Regions from separate parts of the Homo sapiens genome. Here all the other regions are linked to region 1. Evidence: fine-mapped expression QTL. A gene starts in region 1. Each other region holds a variant in brackets. All regions are shown on one strand. Distances are between the middles of the regions.

Region 1 (2,757 bases):
ACCCTCGTGTCTACCCACTTAGGCAACAGTAGCAACTCCCGCATCATGACAACCAAAAATGTCTCCAGACCTCCCCAAATGTACGCGGGGCGGCGAGGAGGGGCAACACCGGCCCTGGTCGAGAACCGCTAGCCTAGGCTCGCCCCTCTACCTGGGCGCCACAACTTGCCAGGGTTGGTTATTCTCCCTGGATCCTTTCCTTCCTCCTCATTTGAGCTTCACGCCCTCAAGTATGACCAAAGGTTCTGTCATTCCACTCCTGCAGTTTTCATTAAGGTCTTAGGCCACTTCCATGTCAAGAAACACAGTGGCTCTTTCTAACCCCTGGCCATGAGGCACCCCTGGAGGAGGAGCCGTGAGGGTAGGGAAGATGCTGAGGGGGATGTTGACCTTGCCGACTTCCAGGCGCCTCCGCTGCATCCCGGAGGAGGCGTTGGGCGGTGAGGGTGCAGCGGGGGGGCGGGCCCCGCAGGATGAGGTGTCCGTGTGCGGCTAGCGCCACAGGCAAGACCGGGCTCCTTGCGGGGCGGAGGTGAGGCCGTGAGCATAGCTCTCAAACTGGAGGGCGCCTCAGAATCACTTGACGGGCTTGCGAGAATGTGGACTGCTGGGCCCCACCTTCATGGTTTTAGTGCAGGAAAAACCGAATAGGCTGGGTGGGACGGAGAATCTGCATTTTCTCAAGTTCCCAGATGAGGCTGAAGCTGCTGGTCCGGGCACCACCCTTAGAAAACCTCCAGTGTAGAGTGCGGAAATGGGGTCCACATCTGGCTTGGGACGCCCAAACATCGATTATGTGCGACCAGAGGATGAGCAGATAGGGAGATGAGACACTGAGAGCTGGGAGAGAGGGGGCCCCCGGCCGCCGGCTGAAGGAGGACGGCGCAGGCGGCGGTCCGGGTACTACATCTCCCAGCGAGCCCCGCGCGGCTCGCGCTCGCCCCCTGGCGGCGATGGCTGGAGGCGCCGGCGGAGCGCGGGTCCCTCTCCTGAGCATCAGTGAGCGCCCGGAGCCGTGGCCGCTGGGGGTTGCGGCGGCGCTGAGCCAGCGGGGCCGGTGAGTACTAGCCGCGCCGCCAGCCCGCCCGCCGGCCGGCTCTTTGCGCCTCAGCCGCGTGGTCTGAAGGGATGGGCGGGCGAGCGCGGGGGTCCGGCAGTCCGTCGTGGGGGCACGGGACTGCCTTTCTGGGAAGGCGTGCTGCGTCTTCGCCGCGGGGGCCCCGGTCCCCTCGTCGCGTGTCCTGTCCCCAGCCCAGGAGGGACGTCCTGGCCTGTCCTGCCCGGCCCGGAGCGGTGGGACCGGTGCCGCAGGTGGCAGCGGCAGGTGGCCGCCTCCTCCCCTCCGGGCCCGAGGGTTGTCGCAGGGACCCGGGACTGAGAGCCAGGTGGCTCCCGACAGCTGCGGCCCTGGAGGCGACCCCAGCCCTCGCCGCAGTGGGACAGGTGCGCGGGCACGCCCGGCCCCGGCTCCTGGGTCTCGGGAGCCTCCCGCACCCTCCCTGTTGTGCCTTGGGGGTGCTGCGTGGTGCAGAGGACCGAGAAGCCCTTCGCCCTCGGCGTCCGCCGCGCTCCCGCCCCTTCCTGGCCGGGGTGACAGGGGAAGGGCTAGGGCTGCGCATCCCGGGTCAGCTGGGGCGCCGCGGCGCAGTGCACCTGGAAGGCCCGGGGGCAGCGCGCGGTGCCCGTGGGTTTCCCGGTGGTGCGGACCTGCGGGCGTGCGGAAGTAACGACCTCCTTCCCCAGTGCCCATGCAAGGAAATTAGTGTTATGTGCTTGCTTTTTTTTTTTTTTTTTCCTAAGGAAGTTTGACTCTGAATATCTTATTTTGCTGGAGCTCCATTTGCCAGCACGTAAGTTTATGTAATAAGCGGCATACAGTTCGGAAAAAAATTTTCCTGTGAAAGTGCTCTTCCTTGCCCTCTGCAGGAAGAATTACGCCGAGCTGGTTGGCAGGCTTATCCACCAGCAACTGTAGGAGCTGCAGGCAGCAGATAAAGTGTTTTTTGAGTAAGGGCACAAGTCAGCCCTTCAGGACAATTTTTGTTTTTGGAAGATTCTGTTATCCAGTTCCAAACACCGTGTTATTTCAGTGTTGAAGATGGGGGAGGAGGGAGGAGCACAGGCTTGTCAATCCTAATACCTCAACAGAAATTAGCTTTGCAGGATTAACTCTCCAAGCAAGCGAGTTGAATTTGGTAGCCCAAACTACAGCTGAAGCTGAGCCTCCATACTAAAGCCTGTCTCAGTTTTAATAGTTTTTCGCTTGATTCGTTTGCCTCTTCCAAGTAGGTGATCTTATTGTCTGTTAAACAACAGATGTCTCTCATGTTTTTACTTTTTTCCTTGTCTTCCATAGATTACTCTCGCTGCAGTGTTGACTATTGAGGTTAAATAGGAATCTTTGTCTTGGGCTTGGTTTTAGGGAGCATTCCCTCTGTATCTTCACCGAGTGTATTCTATCACATTAAGTACATTTCTGTTTATGCCTAATTACTAAGAGTTTAAAAAGTCAAGGGTGGGTGTTGGGTTTTTTGCCCAAATGCTTTTGTGTAGCATGCATTGATATGATCATGTAGATTTTCGTCTTAAAATTGTTAACATAAGTGGTGGTCACATTGCTAGATTTTCTTTCTCTAAAACCCTGGGCTAATTTAAAATGCACTTTTGGATTGTTCACATCAATAAGCTAGCATCTTATTTAGGGTTTTGGTATCTGAGTTTGGCATATAGTTTACCCCATTTTTATCTGTGTTCATA
Region 2 (2,757 bases), 25 kb before region 1:
GCAGGAGAATTGCTGGAATCCGGGAGGTGGAGGTTGCAGTGAGCTGAGATCGTGCTATTGCACTCCAGCCCAAGCTGACAACAGCGAGACTCAGTCTCAAAAAAAAGAAAAAAATTGTCACCAGCAGACCTCACTAAAGAATATTCTATTTTGGCCAGGTGTGGTGGCTCATGCCTGTAATCCTAGCACTTTGGGAGGCTGAGGTGGTCAGATCATTTGAGGCCAGGAGTTCAAGACCAGCCTGGCCAACATGGCGAAAACCCGTCTCTACTAAAAAAATATAAAAATTAGCTGGGCATGGTGGTGTGTGCCTGTAATCCCAGCTATGTGGGAGGCTGAGGCAGGAGATTCGCTTGAACCAGGGAGGCAGAGATTGAAGTGAGCCGAGCTTGTGCCACTGCACTTTCAGTCTGGGCCACTGAGTGAGACTCTGTCTCAAAAAAAAAAAAAATTATATTTGATAGCACAACAGAGTGACTCTAGTCAATACAAAATTAAATGTACATTTTAAAATAACTTAAAGAGTGTAATTGGATTGTTTGTAACTTGAAGGATAAATTGCTTGAGAGGATGGATACCCCATTCTCCATGATGTGCTTATTTCACATTGCATGCCTGTATCAAAACATCTCATGTACTCCATAAATACATATATCTACTACGTACCCACAAAAATAACAAAATTAAAAATAAATAAAAAATAAAAGTATGTATGTGCAAAGTTTAAAAAAAAAAAAGAATATCCTAAAGGATTTACTTCAAGCAGAATAAAGTACATGAGATAGAAAGTCTTTGATGCAAGGCACTAGAATAAGTGGTATGTGGATAAATGTGAATAAACATTGAGTGTAAGCGGTAATAATAAAGTTGTGAAAGTTAATTAACTACAAAATTAGAGGGCATGGTACACACATGAGCACCCTTATTTCTGACACCAACTGCAAGTTCAGGGGTCCCCAAGGCTATCCTTAGGTTTGATAATTTGCTAGAAGTGCTCACAAAACTCACTAAAAGCTGTTATATTCACGGTTATAATTTACTACAGCTCAAGGATACACTTTAATAATCAGCCAAGGGGGCTGGGCGCGGTGGCTCACACATGTATTCCTAGCACTTTGAGAGGCCGAGGCAGGCGGAACATGAGGTCAGGAGATCGAGACCATCCTGGCTAACGTGAAACCCCGTCTCTACTAAAAATACAAAAAAATTAGCCGGGTGTGGTGGTATGCATCTGTAGTCCCAGCTACTCGGGAGGCCGAGACAGGAAAATCGCTTGAACCGGGGAGGCAGAGGTTGCAGTGAGTTGAGATCATTCCACTGCACTCCAGCCTGGGTGACAGAGCGAGATTCCATCTCATAATAATAATAATAATCAGACAAGGGAAAAATGCATAGGGCAAAGCCCAGGGAGGTACCAAATGAGAATATCCAGTTGTCCTCTCCCTATGGAGTCAGAATGGGTTTCCCAGTATAGAGCATTGCCAACCAGGAAAGCTTACCCAAGCCCTTGT[G/A]TCCAAAGTCTTTATTGGAATTCCATCATGTAAGCTGGGTTGTCTGCCCATGTGGTTGATTCTAGTCTCTAGCCACTCAGGAGGTCACACTGATGCCACCTGATCCAAAGCCCCCAACCCAGATCACATTGTTGCTATCTGGCTGGCCCAAGGCCCCTAGTCAAAACAAAAATACTTCTATCAGGAATGATATTTCAAGAGTTTAAAGAGATTATGTCCAGTAGCTGGGGACAAAGGCCAGACCCCTCTTTGGGCAAGGTTAAATCCTTTTCTACACAAACATCTAGCAGGTTTAAAAATGTCACCAGTGTGGCAGGCCACTGAATCTTAGTAGAGTTTATATCTCACCTTCTGGCATGTATGTGTCTTGACTGTGTTTCTGGAACACTTGCCATTTCTTGCTTACAATCAGCATGATGTCGTCAACATAGTGTCTCCATATGATGTTCTGCAGAATGTCCAGACAATCAAGTATTTTTTTTTTTTTTTTTGAGACATAGTCTTGCTCTGCCACCCAGGATGGAGTGCAGAGGCGCGATCTTGGCTCACTGCAACCTCTGCCTCCTGGGTTCAAGAAATTCTCCTGCCTCAGCCTCCTGAGTAGCTGAGATTTCAGGTGCCCACCACCACGCCCAGCTAATTTTTGTATTTTTAGTAGAGATGGGGTTTCACCATGTTGGCCAGGCTGGTCTCGAACTCCAGAACCCAGGTGATCCACCCCCCTCAGCCTCCCAAAGTGCTGGGATTACAGGCGTGAGCCACCACGCCCAACAATTTTTTTTTTTTTTTTGAGACAGTCTCACTCTGTTGCCCAGGCTGGAGTGCAGTAGTGGCATGGCATGATCTCGGCTCACTGCAGCGCCTCCTGGATTCAAGCTATTCTCCTGCCTCAGCCTCCCAAGTACCTGGGATTACAGGCATGCACCACCATGCCCGGCTAATTTTTTTTGTATTATTAGTAGAGACGAGGTTTCACCATGTTGGCCAGGCTGGTCTCGAACTCCTGACCTTAAGTGATCCTTCCACCTTGGCCTCCCAAAGTGCTGGGATTAAAGGCGTGAGCCACCATGCCGGACGGATCAAGGATTCTTTAGACTTGCACTGTCCAAGATTTTAGTGAATACTAAATAGCCACACGTTGCTATTCAGTATTTTAAATGTGGCTAATCAAACGAAGATGTGCTGTAAGTGTAAAATATACTTTCTATTTCCGTGCACTCTAACCTGACAGCTTCCTACTGCAAAT
Region 3 (2,757 bases), 82 kb after region 1:
AGCCTGTGGGCAGCACTGGCTGTCAGGTTGGAGGGAGGGAGAGGATGCGTATGAGGTGTTTCCTAGCTCTGGGGTGCTGCACTTTCCGTTTTGCTTCTCCCTTTCATTACAAGCCCTGCCCACACCTTTGTAAACACTTCCTTTCTCAGCTCACCTCAGTTCCCCAGCTGGCGTCCCAGGCAGAGGCAGTTGCATGTGCAAAGGCCCGGAGCCAGGACTTGATAAATATGGCTCAAGATGCTGCAGCCTAGATAGATATGAAAGTCTCTGGTTCCCTCCTATACTGTAGTTTTTATTCTGTTTACTTTGCACTAGACCATTTTACACTATTCCAAAAAAAAAAAAAAAGGGCTCTTATTTTATTTCCATCTCCTTTTCCTACTGCCTTGGCTCATTCACTTTAATCCTTTGATGGAAGCCATGTTACAGGTAAGGGAATAACTACTTATTAGTGGTCATTTAGCTCTTTGGGATGCTGGTTGCTTGAGGCAGCTTTGGAGACAGAAGGACGTCACAGACCAGTGATTGTGAGCTCTTGGTCTCAATATAGCTGCCAGATTATAGCCTCTCTCTTGGGTCTGCATTTCATATTTGGGACTTGCCTCGGCCTCTGTTTCTTATTCCAGATTACACCCTATTCCTTATGGGTCTCCATATTATACCCTATTCCTTATGGGTCTCCAGATTACACCCTATTCTTTATGGGTCTTCACCTTCTGGCAGGAGTCCATAGTTTCTTACTCCACTATCAAAGTTTGTTTTCAGGTTTGAGGTGGTGTGGTTAGCGATGTACAAATGTTCTTTTCCATTTAGTTTTTGTTTTTATCACTTCTTTTTTTCCAGTGACTTCTGCTGATGGGATCAATGAATTTTACTTTGGAATTTTTCTTCTGATGCTGTATGGAAATCTGTTCTTTTCCTTATTTACTGGGAAAGAATCTGAGGCTATTGGGATGATTTTTCATCTCAAGACTGTGGGAAATAATCAGCTTTGAAGCATTTCCTGTGGCCATTTGCTGAAGTCTGGGATTCCGTCAGCTGCGCCCCAACCAGATTTTCAGTGTTAATGTTTCCATGTTAGGTGGTGAGGCTAAGCAGATA[T/C]GTCATGTGCCGGCTGGTCTAGGAGCCAGTGTCCCAGGGCTCTCATTCTTCCTCTGGAAGTCTCTCCACCGTGGCACTGCTGACATTGTAGGCCAGATGCTTCCTTGTTGTAGGGCTCCCCTTTGGGTTACCGATGTCTAGCAGCATCTCTGGGCTCTGTCCAGTAGCACCCCAAGTTGTGACACCGTAAATGCCTCTGCACATTGCCACGTGCCCATTGGGCTTAGAACTACTACTGTAGAAGAGGTCAGGAGCAAATTCGACCCATGTTCCAAAAAGCTCCAGCTCAGTATTTTCAACATGTGGTTCACTTACGTTCTATTTCCTGCTGAGTCCCCTGGCAATTGAGCTATGTGCACATTCTTATTTTGTTGGTTCTCAGACTTGAATGGTTTGGCCTCTTCCGCTTCCCAGTGCTTATTGTGCTTGTAGCCGAGCCCTGAGTGCCCTCTCCCACTCCTGGAGACTCGTCATTATTTTCTGATTGTCCAGAATGGTTTCCCAGTTGCCTTTCTATTTCTTGCCTTAAAAGGATAATGAAGCTGAGGCCCGAGATAACCTCTCCAACGCAGGCTCCGAAGGCAGCAATTTAGTGGCGGAACAGCGTGTTTTCAGGGAGCAGGAGACGTGTGGACTCTGACTTTAACTGTTGCCCAGCGCCTAATTGTATTCCTTAAATAGGGGTTCCCTCTCTCCTCCTTTTCTCCCTCCCTCCTTTCTCTTCTACTTTACACTGTGAAATTTAAGAGTTGCAGTTTAAGTCCTACACTATTCTGGAGAGGAGAGAAACTTGGTAAGAAAATAAAATGTTTGACAAATTTAAAGAAAACACCCCTGGAACGACATCCCCCACCCCACCATGGGTGTGGGGTCCTAGATTTAACTGTAATTCCTTGATCGATGTGATCCTTTGTGGTGTTCATGAGGATTTTAGGAAATCATGAGATTAATAATAGAAACCTTCTTTTCACTGTCTTGTACTTGGCTGGAGCCTGTTTATTTTGTATGGCTAATTCATATCCATAAGAAAACGATTACTCAGCTAGCATTCCCACCTGTGTTTATCTTTCAGCAGCCAGGATTTGTTAAGCCCTGGGCAATTTTAATTGCTGTGAAGTGTCTTCCCTGCAGGTGTGTTTCCCTCGCTTCTTTCTCTCTTTCACATTTCCAAGTGAAAATAGTCTTCTCTGTGTAGAAGAGTGTGTTCCTTGGATCTGATATGTCTGTCTGCCTCCTGCCCTGAACACACATTTAATTGACCCATCACTGTGTGCTGCTGAGTCAGAAGGCAGAGCAGCGCTCCGTTGAACACCATCAACAGTTTTTGTCGAGAGGGCGGCTCATAGTTGTCAACAGCCTTCTGTGTGCCTGGCACCTGATGGACTTGTTCTCCTTTCATCTTTACAGTTTTATGAAGTTGGCACTGATAACTCCATCTTATTGGGTGAAGATGTAGAGAATCATGTTCAGAAAGCATGGCTGAGTTCACAATGTCAACAGTGGAGCTGAATTTGGACCAGGTGCATTTGATCTATAGCCTTGGTGCTCTCCAGGGAGCAAAGATTATTCAGAGAGGCCATCCGTCCCTGGTGTTTAGGTGTGTAGGTTTTGGAACCAATTTAAACTGGATCTGAATCTTGGCTCCAAGATAAACTC

Direction of the effects. Positions count from the first base shown, and alleles are read on the strand shown. Sizes are in standard deviations (SD) of each study's normalised expression. Not every link is listed here.
For the expression in tibial artery of the gene that starts at base 992 in region 1, allele T in region 3 goes with a lower level than allele C (small effect, 0.37 SD a copy in GTEx).

The links. PIP is the estimated chance that this variant, and not a neighbour inherited with it, causes the effect.
Region 2: its variant is the best candidate, but not a certain one, in a credible set for the expression of SPECC1 in whole blood (TOPMed, PIP 0.66).
Region 3: its variant is the best candidate, but not a certain one, in a credible set for the expression of SPECC1 in tibial artery (GTEx, PIP 0.50).

The regions. Positions count from the first base shown.
Region 1 is chr17:20,008,368-20,011,124 of GRCh38, forward strand. It overlaps SPECC1 (sperm antigen with calponin homology and coiled-coil domains 1), which reads left to right and starts at 992. Exons shown (of 15, transcript NM_001243439.2): 1 at 992-1,057. It overlaps SPECC1-DT (SPECC1 divergent transcript), which reads right to left and starts at 893. Exons shown (of 1, transcript NR_186461.1): 1 at 1-893. RefSeq lists an enhancer at 1-361 and silencers at 794-1,463, 1,484-1,663.
Region 2 is chr17:19,983,677-19,986,433 of GRCh38, forward strand. No RefSeq gene overlaps it. Among named protein-coding and RNA genes, the nearest start is that of AKAP10, 7.2 kb to the left of the region's middle. The variant G/A (reference allele first, on the strand shown) is at 1,512.
Region 3 is chr17:20,090,259-20,093,015 of GRCh38, forward strand. The region is part of intron 1 of SPECC1 (sperm antigen with calponin homology and coiled-coil domains 1); the gene reads left to right. Among named protein-coding and RNA genes, the nearest start is that of SPECC1, 82 kb to the left of the region's middle. The variant T/C (reference allele first, on the strand shown) is at 1,102.